Homo sapiens: one gene and its partner. The protein of the gene in region 2 interacts with the protein of the main gene of each other region in a biochemical or structural test. Each region holds a gene or a part of one and is shown on either strand. Other genes may lie near its edges.

Region 1 (7,353 bases), on a different chromosome or scaffold from region 2:
ATCTACTTAATTTTTCTAGACTTAATTTCTCCATGTGCAAAACAGGGAAAATACTAGGACCTATCTCACAGAGTTGCTCTGAGGACTAAATGAGTTATTTATTTATTTATTTATTTTTGAGACCGAGTCTCACTCTGTTGACCAGGCTGGAGTGCAGTGGCGCGATCTCGGCTTACTGCAACCTCCGCCTCCCAGGTTCAAGTGATTCTCCTGCCTCAGCCTCCCAAGTAGCTGGGGCTACAGGTATGCACCACCAGGCCTGGCTAATTTTTTTTTTTAAGTAGAAATGGGGTTTCACCATATTGGACAAGCTGGTCTCAAACTCCTGACCTCAGGTAACCTGCCCACCTCGGCCTCCCAAAGAGCTTGGTATTACAGGCGTGAGCCACTGCACCTGGCCTTAAATGAGTTATTTATGTAAAAATGCCAGAACAGTGCCTGAAACAATGTGTTGTCTATTATTATTATTATTCAATTTAATAAGCTCTGAGTTTTCACTCACAAATGGATCTAAACCTTTCTTCAAGTTCTATTACGACATCTTTTGGGGTATGATTTTTCATGTGTTGACTACTTGTCTAGTAAAGTTCTTTTATTCAGAAGTAATTCCTTAAAATTTCAAGGAATGCCCTGAATGCTAGTGTTTATTCTAGCTGTCCTTCATGACTTTTGCATTTCAGGAACATACTTACTTTTTCATAATGGTATAGTCTTTTTAGTCTATCCTCAAGACGACTTGCTGGAATTTCATTTATTGCTTCCTTTGTTCTGTGTTCCCCACATTGCTCTGTTTTATGTGGTTGATCTATTGATTGAGACAGGGTCTCACTCTGTCACCAGAGTGCGGTGGTGTGATCATGGCTCACTGCATCCTTGCCCGCCCAGGCTCAGGCAATCCTTTCGTCTCAGCCTCCTGAGTAACCGGGACTACAGGTGTGCACCACCATGCCTGGCTAATGTATTTTTTTTTTTTTTGAGACAGAGTCTCGCTCTGTCGCCCAGGCTGGAGTGCAGTGGTGCGATCTCAACTCACTGCAAGCTCCGCCTCTCGGGTTCGAACCATTCTCCTGCCTCAGCCTCCAGAGTAGCTGGGACTACAGGCACCTGCCACCACGCCCGGCTATTTTTTTTTTATTTCATTTTTAGTAGAGACGATGTTTCACCGTATTAGCCAGGATGGTCTCGATCTCCTGACCTCGTGATCCGCCCACCTCGGCCTCCCAAAGTGCTGGGATTACAGGTGTGAGCCACTGTGCCTGGCCTGGCTAATGTATTTTTAAAACAATTTTTGTAGTGGTGAGTTCCTGGCTGGGCGTGATGGCTCATACCTGTAATCTTAGCACTTTGGGAGGCTGAGTTGGGAGGATCGCTTGAGGCCAGGAGTTTGAGACCAGCCTTTGCAATATAGGGAGACCTCGTTCCTACTGAAAATTAAAAAATTAGCCAGGCATGGTAGTGCTTGCCTGTGGTTCCAGCTACTTTGGAGGCTGAGGTGAGAGCATCACTTGGGCCTGGGAGGTTGAGGCTGCAGTGAGCGGTGATTGTGCCATTGCCCTCCAGCCTGGGTGAGAGAGCAATACCCTGTTTGGGGACGGGGGAAGAGACAGAGAGAGAGAAAGTGCTGAGATTATAAGCATGAGCCACCACGCCCAGCCAGCATGGCTGATCTCTCATTGAAGTCCTTTCTAGTGTGTACACGTTGGAGCCCGTAGGAATGAGAAACGTTATCTCTATTTCCCAACTTTCCTACTAGCTTTTCTTCCTTCGCTGAACAGCAGAGGCATGGTTCAATCTGATTACTTCACAGTTACTGAGTATCGAGTATTATTGCAGAAGGTAGATTTCCTATCTGTGGAGGTTCACTGGGTACAGTAAATTTTGCATTGAGAGGCTACAGAAGCAGGCAGGGAGAAGAGCAGAGTGAAAGAGTGGAAGAGCATGGCTTCGCATCCTGGCAGGTTTTGGTGGAACTTCATCACTCACAACTATTGGACTTATCACTCCACCTTTCTGAGTATGTTTTCTCCTCTGTAAAACGAGAGCAATAATAGTTACCCTTAAAGCTGGGTGTGGTGGTGCATGTCTGTAGTTCCAGCTACTCAGGAGACTGAGGCTGGAGGATTGCTTGAGCCCAGGAGTTGGAGTCTGTAGTGCACGATGATCACATATGTGAATAAACCCCTGTACTCCAGCCTGGGCAACAGAGTGCAACCCTATCACTTAAAAAATAAATAAATAAAATAAAAAATAATTACCCTTTTAGTGTTGACTGAAATCACAGATGTGAAGAGCACCTGCTGCATAGTAAGTGCTCAGAGTTAGTTTTCTTCTCCCAGTCTTTACATGTAGTTTTGAGAGTCTGTTGAACTCTTGAATAACAGCAGGTCAGACAAGGTATTTGCCCTCTCAATGTTTTTTTTTTTTGTTTTGTTTTGTTTTTGAGATGGAGTCTCCCTCTGTTGCCCAGGCTGGAGTACAGTGGCTCAATCTCGGCTCACTGCAACCTCAGCCTCCCAGGTTCAAGCGGTTCTCCTGCTTCACCTGCCTCAGCCTCCTGAGTAGCTGAGACTACAGGTGTGTGCCACTACGCCTGGCTAACTTTTTTTTTTTTTTTTTTTTTTTTGAGACGGAGTCTTGCTCTGTCTCCCGATCTGGAGTACAGTGGCACAATCTCGGCTCACTGCAACCTCTGCCTCCTGGGTTCAAGCGATTCTCCTGTCTCAGCCTCCTGAGTAGCTGGGACTACAGGTGCCCGCCACCATGCCCAGCTAATTTTTTTGTATTTTTAGTAGAGATGGGGTTTTGCCATGTTGGCCAGGCTAGTCTTGAATGCTTGACCTCAGGTGATCCACCTGCCTCGGCCTCCCACAGTGTTGGGATTACAGGTGTGAGCCTGGCACCTGGCCTCAACTTTTTATTTTGAAAAATTTCTCACGTATAGAAAAGTTGAAAGGATAATACTGAGAACTTCTGTAAAATTCCCATAAAAACTTAACCAAGATGCACTGTTCACATTTTGCTGAATTTGCTTTATGTCAGTCTCTCTCTCTCTTTCTCTCTCTCTCTCTCTCTATATATATATTTTTTTTTTTGGAAGGATTTGTGGTAAGTTACAGACATCAAGGATATTTCATCCTAGAATATTTCACCTTATCTCTCATAAGAGTAAGGTTATTCCCCTGTATAACCACAATATCATTATCACACAAGAAATTTAAGTGTTGATAAATAGTATTATTTAAAACAGAATCTGCACTCAAATTTTCACACTTAAAAAAAATCAGAATCTAGTGAAGAAACAGAGATTGCATTGATTTGTCTCTTTAGTCTTTTTTTTTTTTCCTTTCCTTCCTTTTTTTTTTTGTTTGAGACAGAGTCTTGCTCTGTTGCCCAGGCTGGAGTGCAGTGGTGCAATCTTGGCTCACTACAACCTCCGCTTCCTGGGTTCAAGCAATTCTCCTGTCTCAGCTTCCCAAGTAGCTGGAATTACAGGTGCCCGCCACCATGCCTGGCTAATTTTTTTGTATTTTTAATAGAGACAGGGTTTTGCCATGTTGGCCGGGATGGTCTCGAACCCCTGACCTCAAGTGATCCACCCACCTCGGCCTCCCACAGTGCTGGGAGCCACCGCGTCCAGCCTTAAACTTTGTTTGTTTGTTTGTTTGTTTTTTGAGACAGGGTCTTACTCTGTCACCCAGTCTGGAGTGGAGAGGTGTTATCACAGCTCACTGTAGCCTTGACCTCCTGGGTTCAAGTGATCCTCCAGCCTCAGCCTCCCGAGTAGCTGGGACTATAGTCATGCACTATGATGCCCAGCTAATTATTTTTTGTAGAGGTCGGGTCTCGCTGTGTCGCCCAGGCTGGTCTTGAACTCCTGACCTCAAGTGAGCCTCCCACCTCAGTCTCCCAGGCTTCTTTTACTTAACACATATTTTTGAGATTCATTCATGATGAGAACAGTGACAGTTTATTATCACTGCTTTATACAGTTATTGTATGAATGTGTTTGGCCATTTATTATTAACCATTCTACTCTTTTTTTTTTTTTTTTTTGAGACAATGCCTGGCTCTGTTGCCCAGGCTGGAGTGCAGTGGTACGATTTCGGCTCACTGCAAACTGCTTCCCAGGCTCAAGCCATCCTCCTACCTCAGCTCCCCTGGTAGCTGGGACCACAGGCGCATGCCACCACACCTGGCTAATTATTTTTGTATTTTTTGTAGAGACGGGGTTTTGCCATGTTGCCCAGGCTGGTCTTGAACTCCTGAGCTCAACCAGTCTGCCCGTCTGGGCCTCCCAAAGTGCTGAGATTACCAGTGTGAGTGACCACATCTGGCCACCATTCTACTTTTTGTTTTTTGAGACTGAGTCTTGCTCTATCACCCAGGCTGGAGTGCAGTGGCATGATCTTGGCTCACTGCAACCTCTGCCTCCCAGGTTCAAGTGATTCTTCTGCCTCAGCCTCCTGAGTAACTGGGATTATAGGCACTGGCCACCATGCCTGGCTAATTTTTGTGTTTTTAGTAGAGACGGGGGATTCACCATGTTGGCCGGGCTGGTCTCGAACTCCTGACCTCAAGTGATCCACCTACCTTGGCCTCCCAAAGTGGTGGGATTATAGGCGTGAGCCCCTGCGGGTGGCCCATCTTACTTTTTTTTTTTTTTTTGAAATGGAGTCTCGCTCTGTCACCGGCTGGAGTGCAGTGGCGCAATCTCAGCTCACTGCAACCTCCGTCTCCCGGGTTCAGGTGATTCTTCTGCCTCAGCCTCCCAAGTAGCTGGGACTACAGGCATGTGCCACCATGCCCGGCTAATTTTTGTATTTTTAGTAGAGATGGGGTTTCTTCATGTTGGCCAGGATGGTCTCGATGTCTTGACCTCATGATCCACCTGCCTTGGCCTCCCAAAGTGCTGGGATTACAAGCATGAGCCACCGTGCCTGGCCTGAGCCATTCTACTTTTAATGGACATTAGATTGTTTCACCTTTAGGGTCATTACAAATAGTACTGCTGTGAAAATACCTGTACGTGTCTTTTTGTGAACATAATATGTGCATTTCTGGTGAGTTCATCTACGTTTTTTATTTTTTATGGTATTGACATGTTTGGAGAGTCTGGACTACTTGTTTTGTGAAATGTTCCACCATCTGGATTTGTCTGATTTGTTCCCTTACATTTAGATCCGGGTTAAACATTCTTTTGTGAGAATATTATGTAAGTGACGTTGTGTCTATCTGTGTATCATATCTGGAGGAACGAGTCCCATTGTCGAAGATGAAGTTTGATTGTTTGGTTAAGGTGGTGTCTATCACATTTCTCCATCATAAAGTTAACTTGCTAAATTAGTTGCTTTCTTTGCAACTTTGCTAGTATTGTTTTAAATTTTTGAGACAGGGTCTCACTCTGTCACCCTGGCTGGAGTGCAGTGGCACAGTCATGGCTCGCTGCAGTCGTGACCTCCTGGGCTCAAGTGATCCTCCTGCCTTGGCCTCCCAAAGTGCTAGGATTACAGGTGTGAACATGGCCAAGTTTTTCTTTTTTTCTTTCTTGAGATGGAGTCTTGCTCTGTCTCCAGGGTGGAGTGCAGTGGTATGATCTCGGCTTACTGCAATCTCCACTTCCCAGGTTCAAGCGATTCTCCCCCCTCAGCCTCCGGAGTAGCTGGGACTGCAGGTGTGCACCACCATGCCTGGCTAACTTTTTATATTTCAGTAGAGACGGGGTTTCACTATGTTGGCCAGGATGGTCTCAATCTCCTGACCTCATGATCCACCCGCCTCGGCCCCCCAAAGTGCTGGGATTATAGGCGTGAGCCACTGCGCCTGGCCTGGCCAAGTTTTTTTTTAGTATTTTAGTTTAATATTGTATTGACTGACAAAGTCTTATGGCCTAAACTTTACTGTGGAATTCTAATAGGTGTGTTGTGATCAGTTTGAGTTTTGACAAATTGTATATACGTGTGTAACCACTACCACCCTAAACCTGTGTAACCACCACTGCCACAAGCAAGATCAACAGTTTCAGTATCCCTAAACGTTCCCTTACGCCCCTTCCCATTGAATCCTTGCCTGTGGTCCTAGGAAATCTGAACTGTTTTCTATTACTATAGAGTATATTTGTCCCTCCTAGAATTTCATATGAATGAATTATGTATTCTTTTATGTCTTTTTTGGCTCAGAATAATGTTTGTGAAATTTATTTGTGTTATGGTATGTATCAGTAATTATCAGTAATGAATTACCTTTTTTTTTTTTTTTTTGAGATGGTATTTCGCTCTTGTTGCCCAGGTTGAAGTGAAGTGGCTCAGTCTTGGCTCACTGCAACCCCTGCCTCCTGGGTTCAAGAGATTCCCCTGCCCCAGCCTTCCAGTAGCTGGGATTACAGGCGCCCACCACCATGGCCGGCTAATTGGCTAATTTTTTTGAATTTTTAGTAGAGACAAGGTTTCACCATGTTGGCCAGAGTGGTCTTGAACCCCTGACCTCAAATGATTTGCCCACCTCGGCCTCCCAAAGTGCTGGGATTACATGTGTGAGTCACTGCGTCCAGCCAATTTTTTTTTGTTTAGTAGAGATGGGGTTTCACTGTGTTGGTCAGGCTGGTCTCCAACTCCTGACCTCATGTGATCCAACTGCCTTGGCCTCCCAATGTGTTGGGATTACAGGCGTGAGCCACTGCGCCTGACCATGAATTACTTTTTACCGCTGAGTAGTATTCCATCGTATGGATGGCTATATCTCAATTTGTTGATCTGTTCACCAGTTGATGGACATTTGTAGTAGTTTTTGATTCCTGCGTAACAGTATTACCACAAATTTAGCCGCTTGGCACAGCACACATTGATTATCTCATGGTTTCTGTGGGTCAGGAGTCAGGAAACCACTGGGCTGAGTCTCACCAGGCTACTATTGAGAAATCTGTCAGGACTGTGGTCGCTGACTAGGGAGGGGTCTGCTTCCTAGCTTGTGTGGTTGTTGGTGGCATTCAGTTCCTTATGGACCATGAGACTGGAGACTTTAGTGTGTTACTGTCAGCCAGCGGCCGCCCTCAGTTTCTTGCCAAATGAGTCTTCCCACTTGCCTCCTCAAAGCCAGCAGAAGAGAGAGTCTCTTAGTAAAGTGGACATTACCACGACGTATCTCACCCACATTAATGCAGTCACGTACATGCTGTCACCTTTGCCATATTGTGTTGGCCAGAAGCAAGTAACAGATCCTGGCCACATTTGAGTAGAAGGAACAGCACAGGGGCATGGATACCAGGAGGTGGGGATCATGGGGTCACCTTAGAGTCTGTTCCCCACAGGATTCCTTCTCATTCTGGGCTACTGTGAGTATTTGTGTATGTGTAAGTGT
Region 2 (8,054 bases):
ATATATGTATATTATGTGTATATATGTGTTTATATATGTGTATATATATACACACACGCATATATATATATATATATATATATAATGGAATACTATATAGCCATAAAAAAGAATGAAATCTTGTCATTCATGACAACACAGGTGGACCTGGGGGACATCATGTTAAGTGAAATAAGCCAGGCACAGAAAGATAAATACTACATGATTTCACTCATGTGAATCTTTAAAAAAAAAAAAAAGTTGATATCATAGAAGCAGACGGTAGAACGGTGGTTACCAGAGACTGGGAAAGGAAGGAAGAAAAGGAAGACGGGAAGAGGTTCGTCAATGGGTACAAAGTTACGGTGGGATAGGAGGAATAAGTTGTGGTGTTCTATTGCACGGTAGGGTGGTTATGGTTAACAGTAAGGTATTGTATATATAAAATAGCCGGAAGAGAGGCTTTTGAATGTTCCTGTCACAAACAAATGATAAATGCATGAGGTGATGGATATGCTAACTACCCTGATTTGATCATTATACAACATATACACAGCATATATTGAAATGTCTAATTTACCCCATAAATATGTACAAGTGTCAATTTTAAAAACTTTGTTATTTTTTGGCCAGGGGCGATGGCTCACATCTGTAATCCCAGCACTTTGGGATGCCGAGGCAGGTGGATCACGAGGTCAGGAGATTGAGACCATCCTGGCTAACACGGTAAAACCCTGTCTCTACTTAAAACACAAAAAAATTAGCCGGGCGTGGTGGCAGGCGCCTGTAGTCCCAGCTACTCGGGAGGCTGAGGCAGGAGAATGGTGTGAACCCGGGAGGTGGAGCTTGCAGTGAGCAGAGACTGTGCCACTGCACTCCAACCTGGGCGACAGGGCGAGACTCCGTCTCAAAAAACAAAACAAAACAAAACAAAACAAAATTTTTTTTTAAGAATTAGGAATTCCTAGGACGTAGCAAGCTGCTCTTTCAGCTCTGTCCACTCTGTCATCCCACGTCGCTCCTATTCCCTGTTTCCTCCCTTCTTTATATCTATTCTACTCCTAAATTCCTCCCCCTTATTCTTTATTGCTATGTATGGAAGTCTGGGGAAAAAAAAGTGAAGGGAAAGAATCCGATCTGGAGGGCAATAGTAGGGAAGGGGAAAAGAGTAGGTATTTAGGAGAGGAGATGAAAATCCTCTCGTTTCTGAACCGATCTGATGAGTCAGCAAAGAAGACTTACCACAGCTCCAGGACTTTGGGGGGTAGCTTTTCAGGGACCTGGTAATACTGAAGGACCCAGGAGAGGACTTCTTGCCACCGATCCATTTCTGCCAGGGCCTGGATCCCCACAACACACAGGGAGCACTTCACCTCCAATGAGCTGTCAGCAGAAAAACCAATTTCAGTTAGAAGTGGTTCCCCTCCATTTCCATTCCCACCTCCACCTTGGGACTGTTCCTCTCCAGCTCCCAACTCAGCAGCCATCATCTCTCTCATCCCTGTTAGTATTTAGATGGGCTTCACAATTGGTCTCATGGGCTGCCCTTTCCCCCAGGAACTAAAAGTTCCTGTAACCCTCTTTCAAGAGGCAAGTCAGCTGTTGCTCAACGTTCATCTTTGTATCCAGGTGAAATCAGATTTAAATGAAGAGGAAGGGTAATCCTGAGGGGGAAATAACACACAGCACCGGTGTGTGGCTGAAAAGAGAGCTGGAACTAAGAGTTTGCTCTGTGAACAAATGGGCTTGGAGCAAGGTTTCTGGCTGAGTGGAGGTATAGACTCCATAGCTGGCTAAAAGGCACCACCTAGTAAGGTTCCTCCAGACACCCAGAAGCAAAGCCTTCTGCATTCACTGAAATGAGCTCCCACCCAGTCCCCTAAAACACAGCCAGGGCTCTCCAGATCATCCTTCTTTGTGGTCAACTTTAGCTATTCTACCTACCACCTCCCTAGCGTGGCCTAACCCAAGTTTACAATGCAAAGAAATGACTCCCTCACCTGCCAGACGAGGCTGGTGGCATTAGAAAGAGCAATGCAAGCCCAAGGTTTTTTTCTCCGGATTCTTTTCTTTTTCTTCTTTTTGGTAGAGAAGAGGGCTCATTATGTTACCCAGGCTGGTCTCGAACTCCTGGGCTCAAGCAATCCTCCTGCCTCGGCCTCCCAAAGTGCTGGGATTACAGGCGTAAGCCCCAGCTCCCGGCCCTGAATTAATTCTTTAATCCAGTCCTCTAATTGGACCAGAACGCTGCTCCTGCCATGACCCCCATTCCCCATCATCAGCCAAGGTCAGGAATAAACAACCTTGGGCGGGGCGGGGAGGGCGGAGGTACCTGGGAGAGGACTTTTACCACCTGCTTACTGACAGAACTTAGCACTTAATACACATTCAGCCTTCCCATCATGTCATTGTACCTTGGAACAAGGAGCAAATAATTGGCTGTGGGATCCCCACTAAGTTTTTGTTACACGACTTCCCTTCTCTGTAGAATGGGCACACGATGAGCGACCACCCTCTCGGAGACAAACCACTGATGAAAGCGAGGTGTAAAGCTCCTTGTGGGCAATCTGGGAAGGACAGAACTCCTGAGACCTTGAGCCCCACCACAAGAGCGCCCGGAAATCGGTTCATTTCCGAGCCCAGCACGTACGTGCCCGCGGGTTCCTCTGCCACGGCGTGGTTGGCCAGACTCTGCCAGGCCCGCTCGCAGGTCTCCAGCGCCGCCCGGAAGTCCAGGTGCACCACCAGGAGGTCGGCCGCCTCCTCCAGAAGGTCCACGGCCGGCGCCCGGGCCGGGACCGCGCGCACCGGCTCGCTGCTGCGCAGGGGTCCCCCGAGCCCCCTGAGGGGGGCTGCAGAGGTCGAAGAATCGCTCTTCATAACGAGTCCGGGTCCAAGGCCCAGGTCCTCAGACGTCGGAGTGACCGCCTCCCCAGAGGCTCCGGGATATCCCGAGTTGGCCTGGGCGAAGAGGGAGAGTCCTCATCTCTTTGCCCACACCCCTTCCCGAGGTCGATTCCCCGAGAAGGAAAAGGAAGGGGCCTATCTGAGGCAAAAGCTGGGCTCGCCTGGAGGCTGGGGAAGCAGTTTACACGTCAGATTTGCAGGATTCTTGCATCCCTGGAATACCTGGCCCTAGCTTCTCCGGCCCCGCGACACGTGCAGGAACTGCCTCAGCTCCGGGCTCCTGGTTACGATCAAAGACTCACCTCGCCTCCCGGCAGCGGGCGCGGACATCTTTGCGCTCGCCCAGCCCCGCAGCCGCGCGGCGTCCCGGCGGCGCGGAGTACTCTAGGAGTTGTAGTTCCTCAGCTCTCGGCCCATCGCCTTCTGTAATGGAAGTAGGAGGCAGAGCGCGGACTACAACCCCCAGCACGCCGCGCCCCGGAAGCCGCCCCTGTGCCGTGAGAAAACAAACTGGTGCTACAGCTTCGGGGTGCGGAAGTCAAAACGAAGCAAAACCGAAGCTGTCTTGTGAAATGGAGGGGTCCTCACTAACCAGTTCCAGCGGAGGCTAACGGAAGAAGTGCCAGCAATGGATGTGCAGCTACATGCACGCTTTTAATTCAGAGCTTCTGCGACGGTGGCGATCAGGGGATCTGTAATGTAATGTAATGTCAAGGCTGACGCAGAGCTGATCAAACATTTTGGCAACCTTAGTCTTGAATTGATTCACACTTTCTCCGCGTTGCCTCCGGAGTTTGCTGTAGGGTAATGAATATTGCCTGGTGAGGATGAGGGACTTAGGGTGGAAACCTTCACAAGGACCACTGAGAATATGTTGGTCCCAAGGGCAATGTTCCAAAATGAATAGTGACCCCACCGAGGCGGGGTTGGGGGCGCTGAGCATAAGGGCCTCATTTTTCTCACTGCTCTCTGCCCCATCCTGAATTTGCTGTTAAAAAACAACGTTAAATGCAGATACCAATTCCACTTCCCCACTGTTGTCACTTCCGATCTGTCTTTATATTTCTCCTTATCATTTATCACCATCTACATACCAATGTCTATATTTTACTTATTTTTATTGTCTATTTCCTTCCACTATGATATAAACTCACAAAGGCAGACGTTTTTGTCTCTTTTGTTCACTGTGGGAACCTCAATGCCTTGAACAGTGCCTGTCATCTATAGGTAGTCAAAAAGTATTTGTGGAATAAATGAAGTCCTGGTTTCACTTTTATCTGGTTACAGGGTCCAGACTTCTCTTTCCTCGGAGTCTGGTGGACTTGGTTCTGCCTCAGCTTCCCATGCAGACTTTTCTGCAAGAGAACGGAAATCCCAGAAGATGGATGTGTGCATGTCTGGTGACAAGGGCAGGGGATGTATGATGTGAGCAGGTGCCTGTTTAATCTAATTTCTAGGAGAGCAAAGATTCTAGGGAAGCTTTGGAGTGAATTCAAAGGGTAGAGAACTGGGGAGAAACTAAAGCCAAGAGGATCTAGTACAAATGTGGGAAGCTTGGCAAAGCCCGGGTGAAACAGAATATAATAATAAGTGTGATTTGTGGATCTGTTTAAAATTATTATTATAGTTACAATTTACCAAATACTCTGTTCCCAGTACTTTACTATAAAGTGCATTATGTACGGTATGGTTTTGTTTTTCACAATGTCCTTATTTTACATTGTGTAACTTGCTCATGGAATGACTGTGTATCCCCTGAATAGCAAACATACTTAGTTCTGTCCCTGCAGAGCAGAGTAGAGCTCAATACACATCTTTGAACCAAAAGAGCCTCGGTTTGACTGAGATTTTGTCGCTTACTAGTTGTGTGACCTCGGCAATTTATTTAAATAAGCTCTGATTTCCTCACCTGTAAAATTGGGATAACAGTTTGTCCTTAGCTCCCAATGGCTGAGGGAAGAATTAAGTAATATTGCGCATAAAGCGCCATGCGCATTAAGCACTGAAAATGTGAGCCAGGCCTGGGAAGACGAACATGCTCAGAAGCGGCCAGCTCTAAGCGGCTGCTGCCTGGAAAAGTCCCTTTCCTAACAAATTTCTTGCTATTCCAAATTTGTCCAGGAGATGGAGGCACAGTCTTAACAGAAGCAGCCTTGCTAAAAGTAAATTTGCCTATTTAGTAGTGAGACAGCCAGAATGAGGTCAAGATATTTAAGGCAGGAGAGAGGAGAGCTAGAAACCATATAAAAATATGATTGTATTCCATTTCTGATTCACCCAATTTTCAACTATTCCCGGGCTTCATATCAGTCCGTATGTAACCACTGTTTAGCACTATTATGCCCACAAATGGATTCCTCAACACACATCCAGTGGGACACATCATCTCCTCTATGTCTACAAGTACTTAGACTTTCTCAAGCGAAGACACAGAAATCCTAAACAGAAGCGAATTCATTCCCTCTGGGGGAACATAAATGCGTATTGTCTTTACTTAGCCAAACTTCTGTCTCTAAGTTGGAGCTCATGGGACAGCCTTTGAAATCATCTCTTCTGTCATTTCCTCATCTTTGAGACAAAAAACACAGTGGAAATAAGGACAGTCCTTTCAGATGTATAAGGCCAGGCCCATATTAATATTTGTATTGTTTGAATAGTTTTATTTTGGGAAAACTGGCAGAGCACCTGAGATGCCAGTATCCTCGTTACAACCCCTTCCCTAGCCCTACCTAGGCTCTGGAACTTGGGGTTGTTCCTTCCATTTGGCAGAGGGCTCAGTGTGGCTCCTTGCCTGAGGAGGCAGATTTGCTCAGCCTGCTGTAGCAGGGGATGAGTTGTTGTTTTTGTAGCAGAAAGCACACTGGACTGGAGATGAGAGGCATGGCTAGAATCCTGGTTCCTTCAGGTGGGGCACAGTGGTTCATGCCTGTAATCCCAGCACTTTGGGAGGCCAAGGCAGGAGGATTGCTTGAGCTCAGGCATTCAAGACCAGCCTGGGCAACATGGTGAAACCCTGTCTCTACAAAAATTAGCCAGGCGTGGTGGAGCACGCCTATAGTCTCAGCTGCGCAGAAGGCTGAGGTGAGAGGATGGGTTGAGCCCAGGAGGTCGAGGCTGCAGTAAGCTGAGATACACCACTACACTCCAGCCTGGGCGACAGAGTGAGACCTTGCCTCAAATAAAATAAATAAAAATTTTTAAAAAATAAAAAAGAATCCTGGTTCCTTCAGTGACAAAGCCAGGTGACCTCTAGAAAGTCACCATACTTCTTTGTGCCTCAGTTGTCTCATCTGAGGACACTAATACTAACACCTGCTGCATAGGGTGGCTGTGAAGAGCAGAAGAAACCATGTGACAGCCCATTGAACACTTGTCAATCACTGGACTCGTTCAGGCTGATGTAAGGCAAGAAAGAAGAAAGAATCTCAGCCCAGCGCGGTGGCTCATGCCTGTAATTCCAGCACTTTAGGGGGCCGAGGTGGGCAGATCACTTGAGGCCAGGAGTTCAAGACTAGCTTGGCCAACATGGTGAAAAACCATCTATACTAAAAGTACAAAAGTTAGGCAGGCATGGTGGTGTCCACCTGTAGTCCCAGCTGTTCAGGAGGCTGAGGCATGAGAATGTCTTGAATCTGGGAGGCCTCCGCAGTTGCAGTGAGCCAAGATTGGGCCACTGCACTCCACCCTGGGCAACAGACCAAGACTCTGCCTCAATTTAAAAAAAAGAAGAAGAAAGAATCTCATAGCACTCCGAAGTTCTGTAATATTACTTTCTGACCTAGAATCCAATTCTTTTTTTTTTTTTTTTTTTGAGACAGGGTCTCGCTTTGTCGCCTAGGCTGGAGTGCAGTGGTGCGATCTCGGCTCACTCACAGCCTCTGCCTCCCGGGCTCAAGTGATTCTCCTGCCTCAGCCACCCGAGTAGCTGGGATTACAGTTGCATGCCACCATGCCCAGCTCATTTTTGTATTCTTAGTAGAGACAGGATTTCTCCATGTTCTCCAGGCTGGTCTCAAACTCCTGACCTCAAGCCATCCACCTGCCTCAGCCTCCCAAAGTGCTGGGACTACAGGTGTGAGCCACCGTGCCCAGCCCTGGAATCCAATTATTGACTCTTCCATGCAAAAATCAAAAATGCCCACATCTGGCTGGGCACAGTGACTCATGCCTGTAATCCTAGCACTTTGGGAGGCCAAGGCAGGAGGATCACTTGAGCCTAGGACTTTGAGACCAGCCTGGGCAGCATAGCAAGACCCCATCTCTATTGAAAAATGTTTTCTAATTAGCTGGTCATGGTGGCACGTGCCTATAGTCCCAGCTACTTGAGAGGCTAAGGCAGGAGGATCGCTTGAGCCCAGGAGTTCAAGGCTGCAGTAAACTATGATGCGCCACTGCACTCAATCCTTCAAGCCTGGGTGACAGAGCAAGACCCTTTCTCAAAAAATAAAAATGAAAAGCCTACATCTGACGTCAACCTAGCCTGTCTTGCCTTCTCCACACTGGTTCCACATTTCAGGCCAATAAACAGCATCCACAGCTGTCCCTTCGAACATCCCAACCAGCCAGAGCCCCTCAGTACAGGGACATCTGTGGCAAAGCTCTGCATGCAATAGGTTCAGACCAAGTGTGGACCTTTGGCCAGAAGCGAGCCAAGGAGATAAGTATAGGTAGGGTGGAGATGATGTTTTTCCAGGATGGTCAAGGCACACCTCCCTTGCTCCAGAGGCTCATCAGTGGGATGGCATTTTTATGGCTCTTTTTTAAAGCCTGGACTAGGAGTTCAGGGCAGAACTCAATGCTTCCTATAGTGTTCCTCTCCTTGTAGACACAGCAGAACTCTGCTTCTGTATCTAAGAAGTGACCATCATAATCATCCTGTATAGTACTTTACAACAATAATAGTGATGGCTCAATTTATATGGTATGATATTAACTATGCACTAGGTGCTTTTCTGAGTGCTTTATTTATTTGTTTATTTATTTATTTATTTATTTAAGACAGGGTCTCTCTGTGTTGCTCAGGCTGGAGTGCACTGGTGCCATCACAGCTCACTGCAGCCTCAACCTCCCGGGCTCAAGCAATCCTTGTAACTCAGCCTCTAAGTAGCTGGGACTACAGGCACATGCCACCACGCCTGGATAATTTTTAAATTTTTTGTAGAGATGGG

Evidence for each region. Proteins that work in one complex are often made in the same cells at the same time.
Region 1: the proteins of PEX26 (region 2) and PEX14 form a complex in vitro, tested with the Homo sapiens proteins (one study listed by BioGRID).

What each region holds. Positions count from the first base shown.
Region 1 is NC_000001.11:10,477,789-10,485,141, forward strand, and holds part of PEX14 (peroxisomal membrane protein PEX14), read left to right. Parts: intron 1-6,704; exon of another isoform or gene 6,705-7,249; coding exon of another isoform or gene 7,250-7,327; intron 7,328-7,353. UniProt on the Homo sapiens protein: Component of the PEX13-PEX14 docking complex, a translocon channel that specifically mediates the import of peroxisomal cargo proteins bound to PEX5 receptor.
Region 2 is NC_000022.11:18,073,182-18,081,235, reverse strand, and holds the start of PEX26 (peroxisome assembly protein 26), read right to left. Parts: upstream 3,247-8,054; 5' UTR 2,860-3,246; coding exon 2,630-2,859; intron 1,363-2,629; coding exon 1,222-1,362; intron 1-1,221. UniProt on the Homo sapiens protein: Peroxisomal docking factor that anchors PEX1 and PEX6 to peroxisome membranes. PEX26 is therefore required for the formation of the PEX1-PEX6 AAA ATPase complex, a complex that mediates the extraction of the PEX5 receptor from peroxisomal membrane.